2 linked regions of the Homo sapiens genome follow. The protein of the gene in region 2 purifies or fractionates together with the protein of the main gene of each other region. This does not show direct contact. Each region holds a gene or a part of one and is shown on either strand. Other genes may lie near its edges.

Region 1 (7,036 bases), on a different chromosome or scaffold from region 2:
GTGAGAGGAGAGAAGATGAGAAGTCCAAGGTTTTTGGCTTGAGCAACTAGAAGCATGGAGTTAACCATTTCCTGAGATGTGGAAGAATGTGGGATGATCAGGTTTAGGGGAGTTTGGTTTTGTTTATCTTGTTTGAGACCTGCCGTGATTTTGATTTATGAGTCTGGAGTTCAGGGAGCTCCTGTGTCCCTTGACTGATCTAACTAGTGGGGCGTGGGTATTAGAATTTTGTTCTTGGACCTTAAGAATCTCTAGGGAAGAAAGATGCTATAGGATTATGGTAATGCTATTCCATCTTAAAACTTTCAGTAATATTTATCATACCTGATCACCTGTTATGCTTCAAGTACTCAGCCAGATAATAAATTATATCTAAGCTTCACAACAAATTTCAAGGTTGATAATATTTTAATTTTGTAGGTGAGGAAACTTCTACACAGGTAAATTAAATGCCTTGGCCAAAGTCACAGCCAGTTAGTGACACCAACTTAGTTCAGTGTTCTTTGCATTATTGCAACTCTGTTACAATAAATTCAATTTATTATTTCTGTTATTTAGTTGATTAATACAGTCTGATTTTTCTAAACCATTGAACATTTTCATTGTCTTATTTTTTATGTATGAGGAGGTAGTAGTTTGTGTTTAATGTAGCATGGTTTATTTGAATATAGTTCTTGGAAATTTTAGATCTGTAGCCCATGTGGAATTAAATTTTTATATAGCTTTAGGTGGATTTTCTTGTGGCTGCATAGTCAATTATGCCAGTGCTATTTATTAAAGAAGACATCTTTTATCCACTAAATTAAAAAGACCACTTCATCTTACTGAATTCCCAAATGTATCTTGATTTATTTCTGATCTTTCTTTTGTTTCACAATTTCCTTGTCTCTGTTCCAATTCCCTACTATTTTGATTATAATCTTTTTTTTTTTTTTTTTTTTTGAGATGGAGTTTCACTCTTGTCGCCCAGGCTGGAGTGCAGTGGTAGCAATATCAGCTCACTGCAACCTCCACCTCCTGGATTCAAGTGATTCTCCTGCCTCAGCCTCCCAAGTAGCTGGGACTACGGGCGTATGCCACCACGTCCAGCTAATTTTTGTATTATTAGTAGAGATGGGGTTTCACCATGTTGTCCAGGCTGATCTCGAACTCCTGACCTTAGGTGATCTGCCCTCCTTGGCCTCCCAAAGTGCTGGGGTTACAGACGTGAGCCACCGTGCCTGGCTGATGATAATAATTTTATAGTAACCTTTACTATCTGGTAACCTATGTGTTCTTTTTCAAAAAAAAATTGTCCACAGGACCTTTAACATAATTTCTTTCCCCAAAAAACCCTATTGGGTTCCTGGTTGGAAGTATATTTAGGTCTCTCTCTCTATATATATTTTTTATATAGATAGGGTATTGACCTTAAGTTTATTAGATTGATTAGATTCATATTAAATACTTGTGGGAAATACATCATAGGAGATGTTGTAACATCAGTTTGTTCCACCATTAGCAAAGCGATGGTTGGCAAACCCAGCCAGACTTTTTCCTTTAGAGTTTTTGAATATATTTCTCCATTTTCTTTTTCTATCCTGTTGAGATACCTGAAGCTTTTCTAAGTCTTATCTTTTCTATATGGCTTGTTTTCTCCCTATTCTTCTGGCAATTTGTAGAATCTTTTTTTGTCTTCAGTGTTCTAAAATTTACTTTTCGTGTGCCTTTGTGTGGTCTGTTTCTCAGGCCTGGGTATTTGTTGGGCCCTTTCAGTATGACAACTCAAGTCCTTCAGTGTGGGAACTTTTCTTGAATTACAGCCTGGAGTTTGTCTAATCAGATTCCCTTGTTCATTCTTTCAGAAGCCCTTGTTGGATTTTTGGACTTTCTGAACTGGTCCTGAACTGGTAATTTTCTTTCTTTCTTTTTTTTTTTTTTCCTCCTACTGTCTTTTTTCTTTCTTTCTTTTTTTTTTTTTTGAGACGGAGTCTAGCTCTGTCCCCCAGGCTGGAGTGCAGTGGCACCATCTCGGCTCGCTGCAACCTCTGCTTCCCGGGTTCAAGCGATTCTCCTGTCTCATCTTCCTGAGTAGCTGGGATTACAGGTGCCCGCCACCATGCCTGGCTAATTTTTGTATTTTTAGTAGAGACGGGGTTTCACCATATTTGCCAGACTGGTCTCGAACTCCTGACCTTGTGATCTGCCTGCCTCGGCCACCCAAAGTGCTGGGATTACACACGTGAGCCACTGTGCCCAGCCTTTCTCTCCTACTTTCTATCTTTTTGCTCTACTTTCTTTTTTCTTTTTCCTTTTTTTTTCAGATGGAGCCTTGCTCTATCGCCAGGCTGGAGTGCAGTGGCACAATCTTGGCTCACTGCAACCTCTGCTTCCTGGGTTTAAGCAATTCTCCTGCCTCAGCCCCCCGAGTAGCTGGGACTACAGGCACGCGCCACCATCCCCAGCTAATTTTTGTATTTTTAGTAGAGCCGGGGTTTCACCGTGTTCGCCAGGATGGTCTTGATCTCTTGACCTCGTGATCCACCTGCCTCGGCCTCCCAAAGTGCTAGGATTACAGGCATGAGCCACCACGCCCGGCCTCTTTTTGCTCTACTTTCTAGAAGATTTTCTTTTAACAGTTCTGTCGTATGTATGTATTTATTTATTTATGTTTTGTGACAGGGTCTCACTCTATCACCCAGGCTGGAGTGCATGGCTCACTGCAGCCTCGACCTCCCCAGGCTCAGGTGATTCTCCCACCTCAGCCTTCTAAGTAGCTGGGACTGCAGGTGTGTGCCACCATACCTGGCTAATGTTATAATTTTTTTTGTAGAGACAGGGTTTTGCCATGTTGCTTAGGCTGGTCTTAAACTCTTGGGCTCAAGTGATCTGCTTGCCTTGGCCTCCCAAAGTGCTGGGATTACAGGCATGAGCCACTGCACCTGGCAGTTCTGTTGTTTTTAATCTTGGCTGTCCTGTTTTTAATTTCCAAAAGCTCTTGTTTTTTCTCTGAGTATCCCTTTTAAAAATGATTGTTTTATTAACGCAGTCTTTTTCTCTTATCTCTCTGAGGATATTACAGTGTTTTTAAAAAAGTTTTCTTCTTGTGCGTCATCTCTTTTTTCCTCCTGCTTCCTTTTGTTGTTGTTTTGTCCTGGTTGCTGTATTTCATGTTAGGGGCTGTTTTGTCTGTTTAATGTTACTGTAACACAATACCACAGACTGGGAAATTTATTAAAAAACTGAATTCATTTCTCACAGTTCTGGAGGCTGAGAAGTTCAATATTAAGGTGCTAGCATCTGGTGAGGGCCTTCTTGCTGTGTCATCCCATGGTGGAAGGCAGAAGGGAGAGAGTGAGAGAGGGGAAAGGGGCCTAACTCATCCTTTTATCAGGAGTCCACTCCTGCGATAACTAACCCAGTCCTGCAAGAACAGCATTAATCTATTCATGAGGGCAGAGCCCTCTTAAAGATTCCATCTTTCAACACTGTTGCATTGGGGATTAAGTTTCCAACATGTGAACTTTGGGGGACACATTCAAACCATAGCAGGGACTTTCCTCATATTTTTAGTAATCCTTGGCTCCCTGCTCATGGTTAATTCTGGGGAACCAAAAAGCTCATTGGAAGCTATCAGTGTGCAGTTGCACTTTTGATTTTGAACTTCACAACAGGGTGACCTAGGTTGCTCTTTTTTGGAGGAAGTTCCTGATGTCAGTGTATTTAGGTACTTCTTCTTGGTTAGATTACCAAGGGAATAGTCATCCAGTCTCCCACAGAGGACAAGGGGATGGCTGTTAGCATTTTGTGCACCATGTGGGGAAGGAGAACTGTGCTTTCAGCAGTCAGAGTGCACACAGTCACTTGGGTTCCCTGTTTGGTTGTTTTTGTCCCCATGCCCTTTACTATGCCAGATGGTCCCCAATGCAAATCCCTTCAGTTTTATCCTCTCCAGAGAATACATCTCCAGACAGTTTCCTTAGTGGGGAAGAGGGAGTTAGAACAGTGTGGAGTTGGGGAGAGGATCTGGGAATATGGCTTCCTCTCAAGTAGCTTTCACCCTGTAGTGTGTATTCCAGGCATCTCCCATTCCAGAGCTGCCATTTCCCGTTTTTTGTTTTTTTTTTTTTGTTTTTTTTTAGGGATTCTGTTATGTACATCAGGTTGATTCTCAGTTTCCCCCTTTGCTGTTCTGGCATTTGTCTTTCACTTAGGTCTAGTCATCTACCACTAGTCCATTTACTTTCTCCTTCCAAAATTCTGCTGTCATCTCCTCTTTCGTTTTACCTGACCACAGTCATTCACATCATCAAAACAATGTATTTATTATAGTTTTAGTAGAATTTTGGGAGGCTGCAAATTCTGCTAATCTGACAGGTTGAATATAGGGAATTGGGTACTCACAAAATGGTAGAAAGCGATGCCTATTACATCTGCCACATTGAAAAATAGATTGTTCATGTCAAGCTTCATGACAGCCAGGAAGCTGATTAGAGGATACTATCAGTTTGAAAACTCATGGTCTCCATGCCTGTGTTTACTAGCTGAAGGACAGAGCACTGTATAAGTCTAGGGTCTGCTTTCCAGATTTTGCTCGAGTCCCTCTGGTTGGCAGAACTGAAATTGCTTTTGGCAACTATAGCTGCAAGAGGTTTTGGGATTCCTTTTGCTTTGCAGGAAGGCATACCTGTTTGAGGGTGAAGTGGATGTTGACTGAGCCAATCCACAGCATCTTCCATCAATAATCCACAACATGATAAATAGGAAGACTTTGTCCTTATTTTCCAATAATGCATAGAAATTCATTTTTTTTTTTTTTTTGAGATGGAGTTTCATTCTTGTTGCCTAGGCTGGAGTGCAATGGTGTGATCTTGGCTCACTGCAACCTCCTCCTCCCAGGTTCAAGCGATTCTCCTGCCTCACCCTCCCAAGTAGCTGGGATTACAGGCATGTGCCACCACTCCCGGCTAATTTTGTATATTTAGTAGAGATGGGGTTTCGCCGTGTTGGCTAGGCTGGTCTCGAACTCCTGAGCTCAGGTGATCCACGTGCCTCGGCCTCCCAAAGTGCTGGGATTACAGGTGTGAGCCACCACACCCAACCTAAAAATTTCATTTTTGCACATGAATGCCAGACATAATTTTATTGTTTTGACTCCTCCTTTCAAAGTCTCTTGTCAGTATGTTTTAAATTTTTTAGTTTGTGAAATAGTTTAAATAGTTTTGATTTTTAAAATTATGAAATACCTAAAGTATTTAAACATACAGAAGTGTACAATGAACCTACACATAGTCATCACCCAGTTTTATTGAATCTTTATATTTTGCCATATTTGCTACAAATCCCCCACTCCCAGTAATAAAACATTAGGAATAGAGCTAAAATCTCTTTTCTTTCTCTCTCCCTAGACTAGATACTTATTTGAATTTGGTGTTAAATCCTTCCCATACATGTTTTCATGTTGTTATTATATACATATATAGACATTAACAGTATGTAGTACTGTTTTGCCTTTTTTAAAGGTTTATGTAAAGCTGTCATACAAAACATTCTGCAACTTGTATTTTGTTTAAAATGTTTTTGCCATCTATCTAGTTTGATACATGAATTCTAGTTCACTCATTTTAACTGCTATGTAATATTCCACTGTAATAGGTCAGAATGTGTTAATTTCTTCACCTGTTGATGGACATTTAAAGCATTAAATGTGCTTCAGGAACATGCTTATATTCTTGCCATTTTAATTAACCACTATTATTATTACACAGTAGTACAATGTTTCAGGTTAATGAACTTTTTGTTCTTTTGATTTAGCAAAAATGATGTACAACTTGTGCTGTAGAAGCATCTGGCCTGAAATGCAGGGAGATCTTAAAAGTGTGACCTGAATTTTGTTCAGAAGGCCTGAATGTTGTTGGGATAGTTTTGAGAAATAGATTCATCCTCTCTTAGCCATCCTCAGAAGGCAAGAAAGGCATTTCCTATGACGAGAGTTTCGTTAGGATGAACCTTTCTTTCTCTGACACGATACTTACTTTGTGTTCCTCTGTTTTCTTGCTGTTTCAGACAGAATGTTGCTGCGGGATGTAAAAGCTCTTACCCTCCACTATGACCGCTATACCACCTCCCGCAGGCTGGATCCCATCCCACAGTTGAAATGTGTTGGAGGCACAGCTGGTTGTGATTCTTATACCCCAAAAGTCATACAGTGTCAGAACAAAGGCTGGGATGGGTATGATGTACAGGTAATATCCACTACAGTAATGGCAGTCTAAATGGGGTTTTTATTCAGTAAATTGTTTATTGGGACATTATTCAGTCTTTTGAGGGTGCACCTACGGAAATCTCAGATCAGCCTAAAATATGTAAGTAAATCAATCACTCTTCCTGTGGAAGAAATGGCCTCCAAAAGAAATGAACTGATTTTAAAGCCTGAAAATACTCATTTTAGTTTTTGTATCGTGACCTCCTTCTAAGATATTTGTAAATTTTCACAACTTTTTATATACTTGAGGGTGAGGGATAGGGGATATCTTATGGTTGTCATTTTCCTGTCGTTCCTCAAAGAATACCAACCTACCCTTAAGACAAAGTTAAGATAATTAGGAATTATAGATCGTAAATAGTAGGGGTTCATATATCTCTATTGTGCTTCTAGCACTTGATTTTAAAATTGTCTTAGAACTGAGGGTGGTTACTTTTGAAAGGAAGCATTTCGGCAGGTTTCATTGATTGCCTTTGGGACGCTGGTGTTTTGTATACGAGCAGAGCATCTCCTTGAAGTTCCAAAACTGAATATGCTTTAGAGATAGATTTTATTAAATGAATTCAGTTTAAATCACTAGTTACATATTTCTACTTTGTATTCTGACTGCTTTCAAAATTGATTTAAGACGACTGGTCACAAGGCAAGAAACTTATGTTGACGATTTCCCCTCTCCATCAGAATGATATTCTTGTTTGATACAACCTTTATGCGTGGTCTTTGCAATTCAGAGAGGAAGTTGATGTGTACTGGGTGATACTTACTTCACAATATTTTCCCCCAGTACTGCTA
Region 2 (7,036 bases):
GCTTTCACTGCAGTGTGGGACCACCTGAGCCTCTGCGTGTGCAGGCACTGGGTCTCGAGAGGGTGCAAGGGGGATAAAGAGGAGAGAGCGCTTCATAGACTTTAAGTTTTCCCGAGCCTCATGTCTACCGATGGCGTGAAAGGATCCTGGCAAAACAGAAGTGTGAGGCAGGTGGGCGTCTATATCCATTTCACCAGGCTGGTGGTTACATAATCGGCAAGCAAGAGCTGTGGAGGGGCTTGCTGGATGCCCTCAGCACCCAGGAGGAGGGAGGGAGCTAGCAAGCTAAGGCAGGTGGCCCTCCTGGCCCCTTAAGGTCCATCTGCTGGAGGCCCAGAGTCCTTGGAGTACAGTCTACACCTGGAGGGGACCCATTCCTGCCAGTCTGTGGCAGGGATGGCGCGCCACCTCTGCCAGGCCAGGACCCCAAGCCCGATCAGCATCAGCATGGTGCAGGTGCACAGGCGTGAGCTGATCAGTGACGAGGGGCAGGCACACAAGGTGGAGACAAAGACCAAGAGGACGGTTGCCAGTGAGAGGCGCGGACTCAGGAACTTGAACAACATCTGCGGGGGACGGCTTTGGAGGTGCTCCGCTGCCTCCAGTTGGGTGACTTGCTGTAGCATCTCCAGCTTGGATATTCGGCTCTTGAAGGTCTCCGTGATCTCCTGCAGGAGACGAAAATGCACGCACCAGAAGTCAGCACAGAGTTGTGGTCGTTTATTGAGTTCTTAGGGGTGAGCAGAAAGCACTGTGGAGTGGGTATTCGAGGAGGGAAGCAGAGAGCCTAGAGCACATTCAGGGCAGAGGGGAGGGCGCAGGCTCTCCAGCAACAGGGAAAGCTTCATCTGACCCGGCTGCACTCCCCCATCCACTGTCTCCCGAAGCTGAGGACCTGGTCAAGACACAGCTACCCAGGGACGGGGGTGGGCGCTATGGGAATGGAAAAGTGAGGAGAGGGAAGCCAGGTCTAAGGAGGGGTTCTGAGAGGGCGCTCCCTACACCTGCAGCCGCAGCAGAAGCAGCTCCACCCCAGATCTCCCGAGTCAGAGGCTCACGGGTGAGCACTGCAGCACCAGAGTGGCAAAAGCAGCTAAGCCAGATGGTGGGAAGCGGAGCGTGAGTGTAAAGATCAGATGCTGCTAGCTCTGAAACAAATGTGTGTGGCCATCGAACCCTCAGGAGGGGGCAGCTCGAGGACCCGTGTCTTGCTTTGGTTTGGGGGTATCAGAATAGATTCGCTCATCCCTCCAGTCTTCTTGCAAGGCTCCCCCAGGAGGTTCTCACCCATATTTCCTTGGCTCTCTCATAGGATAGATAGGCCATTCTCTCTTCGCTGCAGGCCAGATTGTGTTTGAGGTTGTAAATCTCATTCAGCTGTCCCTGCAGGCGACCATTCACCTGTTCTTCCATCAATGCTTGCCTTGGGAGCAAAAGAGAAAGTGAGATTCCTTCAGTACCTCATCCAGAGCTCATGCCAACAGCGAGCGGTCCTGACCTAGACTAGATTCGGGTTCAGCTTCTGCCTTCCTCCCCGCTCCCCAGGCTCTAGGGAAAGCCTGCCTCCCACTCCAGGTCTGCCTGGGAACACCCCAAACACACACCAGCCACACGCACACCAATATTCATATATATTTTATATGTAGTTACTCTTTTGTAACAGCTTTACAAAAATAGCCACAGACTAGAAGTTGTAGAAATGACAGTGTGAACTATCTGTGTGTGCTCTTCAGTTCCGCAAATCCCCCAGGACCAGTGTTGAGCACGAAGTCTAGCCTGCAGTTTAGCCTGCAGTTACTCTATAGAAACATGGTGACTATAAGGATTGAAAAGCCACAAAAGACCACAGATTCCAGTACAATTCCATTAGTTACGAAATGTCCAGAATAGGCAAATCCATAGAGACAGAAAGCAGATTAGTGGGTGCCAGGGGCTGGGGGTGGGGGATGGGCAGTGGCTGCTAATGAGTACAGGGTTGCTTTGGGGCTGGTGAAAATATTGTAGGACCGGGCACGGTGGCTCACGCCTGTAATCCCAGCACTTTGGGAGGCCAAGGCGGGCGGATCATGAGGTCAGGAGATCGAGACCATCCTGGCTGACACGGTGAAACCCCGTCTGTACTAAAAATACAAAAAAAATTAGCCGGGCGTGGTGGCGGACGCCTGTAGTCCCAGCTACTCGGGAGGCGGAGGCAGGAGAATGGCGTGAACCCGGGAGGCGGAGCTTGCGGTGAGCAGAGTTCACACCACTGCACTCCAGCCTGGGCGACAGAGCGAGACTCCGTCTCAAAAAAAAAAAAAAGAGAATATTGTGGAATTAGATAGTGGTGATGGTTGAACAACTCTGTGACTATACGAAAAACCAGTGAATTGTACACTTTAAATTGGTGAATTTTATGGGATGTGAATTATATCTCAATAGAGCCGTTATTTAAACAAAAAGAGAAAAGTGAATCATGGCAATAGTTGCGCAACTCAGTAAATTTACTAAAAACCATTGAAATGTAGTTAAAATGGTGCATTTTATAATATGTAAATTATATCTCAATAGAGCTGTTAAAAAACCACAAGCAGGCCAGGCGCAGTGGTTCACAGTTGCAATCCCAGCGCTTTGGGAGGCCAAGGCAAGGGGATTGTTTGAGGCCAGGAGGAATTCAACACCAGCCTGGGCAACACAGTGAGACCCTGTCTCTACAAAAAAAATTTTTAATTATCTGGGTGTGGTGGCACGTGCCTGTAGTCTCAGCTACTCTGGAGGCTGAGGCAGGAGGACCTCTTGAGTCCGGGAGTTCGAGGCTGCAGTGAGCTGCCATCACGCCACTGCACTCCAGCCTGGGCAGCAGAGTGAGACCCTATCTCTAAAAGAAAACAATCACTACCTGTTGTGTATATAATTATATAAGTAGTAAAAGTATAAAACCATGCATGGAAAAGATAAGCACCCAAATGAGAATGGTGAGGCCAGTATAGCAAGGCCAGAATAGCAAGGAAGGGAGATGGTGCTGGAAAGGGGTAATGAGGGCTTCAACAGAATATTTTAAAGTTTTATTTCCTAAAAAAATAAGATTTGAAGTGAATATGGCAAATGTTAAGATTTCAGAAAGCTGGGGCTGTTAATTATGTTATCCTTACATTTTCCCTTTGCTTGAAATACTTCATAATTTAAAAACTTCTATGAAGTTCCCCTTTTGGCACCACAAAGAACGGGCCAGAAGGACAGAGGCCAGGGGGCCAGTGAGGGGGCTCTGGCACCACCGCTTACGTAGAAGAGAGAAGGCACCAGAGCGTGATGGAACCCATAGACTGGCAGGGCTGCCGCCCCAGGAGGCCCAGGAGGGTGGCGGCAGGCCTCAGGTGCAGGAGGTCTAAACGGTGGTGCTGACAGAGACGGGGAAAACAGTGACGACTTCTATTCGGTCCCACTCCAAGGACTTGACCAACACCCACACGGAGAAATCCCCCGGGCACTGAATAAGCTGACAGCTCATTTGTTGAAAGCCAATTTGTCAAAAGCTGGTTCCTCGCAGCATTTCAAGGAATATTCCATTTGTCTCTGCCCCAGGTCCCTGTTAAGAAGAGAGTCGGTGGACAACATGGACTAGGCCACTGCTCACAGAGAGGGGGAGTGGGTCGGCAGGATGGTCACCCCGAAAATAGATTCCTCATTACTGTCTTTCCATTTACATGAATGATCTAGCTGTGAGAACATTCAAGATTTTAACTGTCCTCAGGAATATGAAGTCAATCTTCATCAATGTATTGGTAAAGATACATGAAGATATTCTTCAGTGCATTCTTGAAGAGTCTCTTCAGATGTCAGTAAACAATATTTTCATAAGGATATTCTCTCAGTCTCCCCTTCTCTCTGGCCCCCATCTCCTGGCCCTCTGGCAGCCGCGCTCCCTTCTCTTCCTTGGTCAAGGACCCCCCTCTCTCCACCTCCTACAGTCACAGAAGCAAATGGACAACTCTGGAGAATGCTCTTATGAACACAAAACGATGACCAGTCAACCCAGACACCCTCAAGACAGACCGAAGGTGTTAAGACCACCCTCTCCAACACAAAGTGTTCTAAACTTTATTGTTTTTTTCAAAATAGTGTTGTTGTTTTTTTTTTTTGAGACGGATCTCCTTCTATTTGCCCAGGCTGGAGTGCAGTGGCACGATCTTGGCTTGCTGCAACCTCCGCCTCCCGGGTTCAAGTGATTTTCCTGCCTCGGCCTCCTGAGTAGCTGGGACTACAGGTATGCGCCATCATGCCGGGCTAATTTTTTGTATTTTTAGTAGAGACAGGGTTTCACCATGTTGGCCAGGCTGGTCTCCAACTCCTGACCTCAGGTGACCCGCCTGCCTCGGCCTCCCAAAGTGCTGGGATTACAGGTGTGAGCCATTGGGCCCAGCCAGAAAGAGTATATTCTTGGTCATTTCTGAGAATTTGCTTTTGGCAAATTGAGCTAGAGCCTAATCATGGCCCACAACTTGGAGGAAAAGTCTGAGACGGAGAAACAGCTGTAGGAGGGGTCAATAGCCCAGGTGCAATCGGTGCATGTGGCCAGGATGGATGAGCTCACTCTGAGCAAATGTGCCAAAGCAAGGGGCCCTGGGGAGCTGGGGGAAGAGCCAACAAAACAGAAGCGAAAGCAGGAGGAAATTCGCCAGGACGGCTCACACAGGAACCCAGAGGATGTAGGGATACAGTGGAAAGGTTGAACATACATGTAACTGGGGCCTTAGAAGGGGAAAAATGAGAGACTAGGGCAGAGTCACTATTTGAAAATATAATGGCTGAAAACGTCCAAAACTGACAAAAGACATCAAGCCATAAACCCAAGTAGCAATGCGAAGCCCAAGCAGGATGAATGCAAAGAAAATCACACCAAGGGGAGAGTCAGCGGCACAAAAAAGAAGAGAGAAAGAAAATCACGCCAAACATCATCATAGCAAAACCACTAAACAACAAAGAAAAACAAAAGATCTTAAAAGGAGCCTGAGGAAAACAAAACTGTGATCCGAGGAGCAACAAGAAGACTGGCAGCTGCCTTTTCAACAGAAACCATGGAAGTCAGAAGGGAATGATTTGTTCAAAATGCTTATTATTTCCAAAAATTAAGTGCCAACTTAGAATTCTATGTCCAGCAAAAAATATCCTTCAGGGCCGGGTGTGGTGGCTCACGCCTGTAATCCCAGCACTTTGGGAGGCCGAGGCAGGCAGATCACGAGGTCAGGAGTTCAAGACCAGCCTGGCCAACATGGTGAAACCCCGTCTCTACTAAAAATACAAAAACTAGCCGGGCGTGGTGGCACATGCCTGTAATCCCAGCTACTGAGGAGGCTGAGGCAGGGGAATCGCTTGAACCTGGGAGGCAGAGGTTGCAGCGAGCCGAGATCTCACCATTGCACTCCAACCTGGGTGACAGGGTGAGGCTCTGTCTCACAAAAAAAAAAAAAAGAATTCCTTCAGAAATAAAAAGGAATGATGGCATGTGTGAGGCAATAAGGTGACAGTGACTGCATATTTAACATTGTGGACTTGTTTTAAAACATTTTTGGTATGGTATTTAGGCTATGTTAACAAAATGATCCATATTTCAGGTTCACACTGAAATATTTACAGATGAACTGATATAATGTCTGTGCTTTGCTTCAACGCAATAGGGATGAGAGGAACCAGTTCAGAGAGCAGATCAGACCTTAGGTCAGACCTCCTCAGAGATCCCAAGATGCAGGATGCTGTGACATGGAGGAGAAGTCGGGGAAAAAATGGAAGTTAACACGACCCCAGCCTGCAACAAAGCCCTAAGCAGATACCTTGAGGAAAGTCAGCCCGAGGCTGGATCCCTGGGGCTGAGAGGTCACAGAGCAACACTGAAGCCTCTAGGAACCATAGCCTGTTATCTCCAAGCCTCGTCTGAAAGCGAAACATACCAGAACAGTCTTGGGACAGAGGAGCTAGGGTCTGGATGCCCCCAAGGACCTCGTGTCCAGGAGGGAAAGAAAAACATGGAGACCTGGCATATTCACTTCCGGGCGTTTTCAATATGACAGGAGGCTATAAGAAAATTTCACGACTGCCCACTTGTGGATACAGCCAGAAATACAAAGCAAGAGTGAAAGTTTTGCCTACTCGGCACCTGAGTAGCTTCTTTTTTATTCAATTTTTATTGAGGTAAATTTCATGTAACATAAAATGAATTATTTTAAGGTGAACAATTCAGCGGCATTTAGCACATGTGGTGTTGTGCAACCACCATGGCTATTAATAGTTCCAAGACATTGGCCGGCTGCAGTCATGCCTGTAATCCCAGCACTTTGGGAGGCCGAGGCGGGCGGATCACGAGGTCAGGAGATCGAGACCATCCTGGCCAACACGGTGAAACCCCGTCTCTACTAAAATATGCAAAAATTAGCTGGGCGTGGTGGTGCATGCCTGTAATCTCAGCTACTCAGGAGGCTGAGACAGGAGAATCACTTGAATCCGGGACGCAGAGGTTGCAGTGAGCTGAGATCAAGCCACTGCACTCCCTCCAGCCTGGGCAGCAGAGCAAGACACCACCTCAAAAAAAAAAAAAAGCCATTAACAACTTTCTTTCTTTCTTTCTTTCTTTCTTTCTTTCTTTCTCTTTTTCTTTCTCTCTCTCTCTCTCTCTCTCTCTCTCTCTCTCTCTCTCTCCCTCTCTCTCTCTCTCTCTCTCTCTCTCTCCTCTCTCTCTCTCTCCTCTCTCTCTCTCTCTCTTTCTGTTTTTTTTTTTGAGACAAGTTCTCACTCTGTCCTCTATCACCCAGGCTGGAGCACAGTGGCACAATCATAGTTCACTGCAACATAAAACTCTCGGGCTCAAGCGATCCTCCTGTCTCAGCCTCCCATGTAGCAGGGACTACAGGCATGTGCCACCAAGTCCGGTTAACACTTTTAAAATTTTTTGCAGAGATATGGTCTCACTTTGTTACCCAAGCTGGTCTCAGACTCCTGGGCTGAAGCAATCCTCCTGCCTCGACCTCCCAAAGCACTGGGATTACAGCCATAAGCCACCACATCT

Evidence for each region. The genes of interacting proteins can lie anywhere in the genome.
Region 1: the proteins of TEX28 (region 2) and SARAF purify together in Homo sapiens (co-immunoprecipitation; 3 studies listed by BioGRID and IntAct, with this or other methods). This does not show direct contact.

What each region holds. Positions count from the first base shown.
Region 1 is NC_000008.11:30,073,065-30,080,100, reverse strand, and holds part of SARAF (store-operated calcium entry-associated regulatory factor isoform 1 precursor), read left to right. Parts: intron 1-6,045; coding exon 6,046-6,224; intron 6,225-7,036. UniProt on the Homo sapiens protein: Negative regulator of store-operated Ca(2+) entry (SOCE) involved in protecting cells from Ca(2+) overfilling.
Region 2 is NC_000023.11:154,271,104-154,278,139, forward strand, and holds the end of TEX28 (testis-specific protein TEX28), read right to left. Parts: intron 1,424-7,036; coding exon 1,288-1,423; intron 669-1,287; coding exon 312-668; 3' UTR 162-311; downstream 1-161.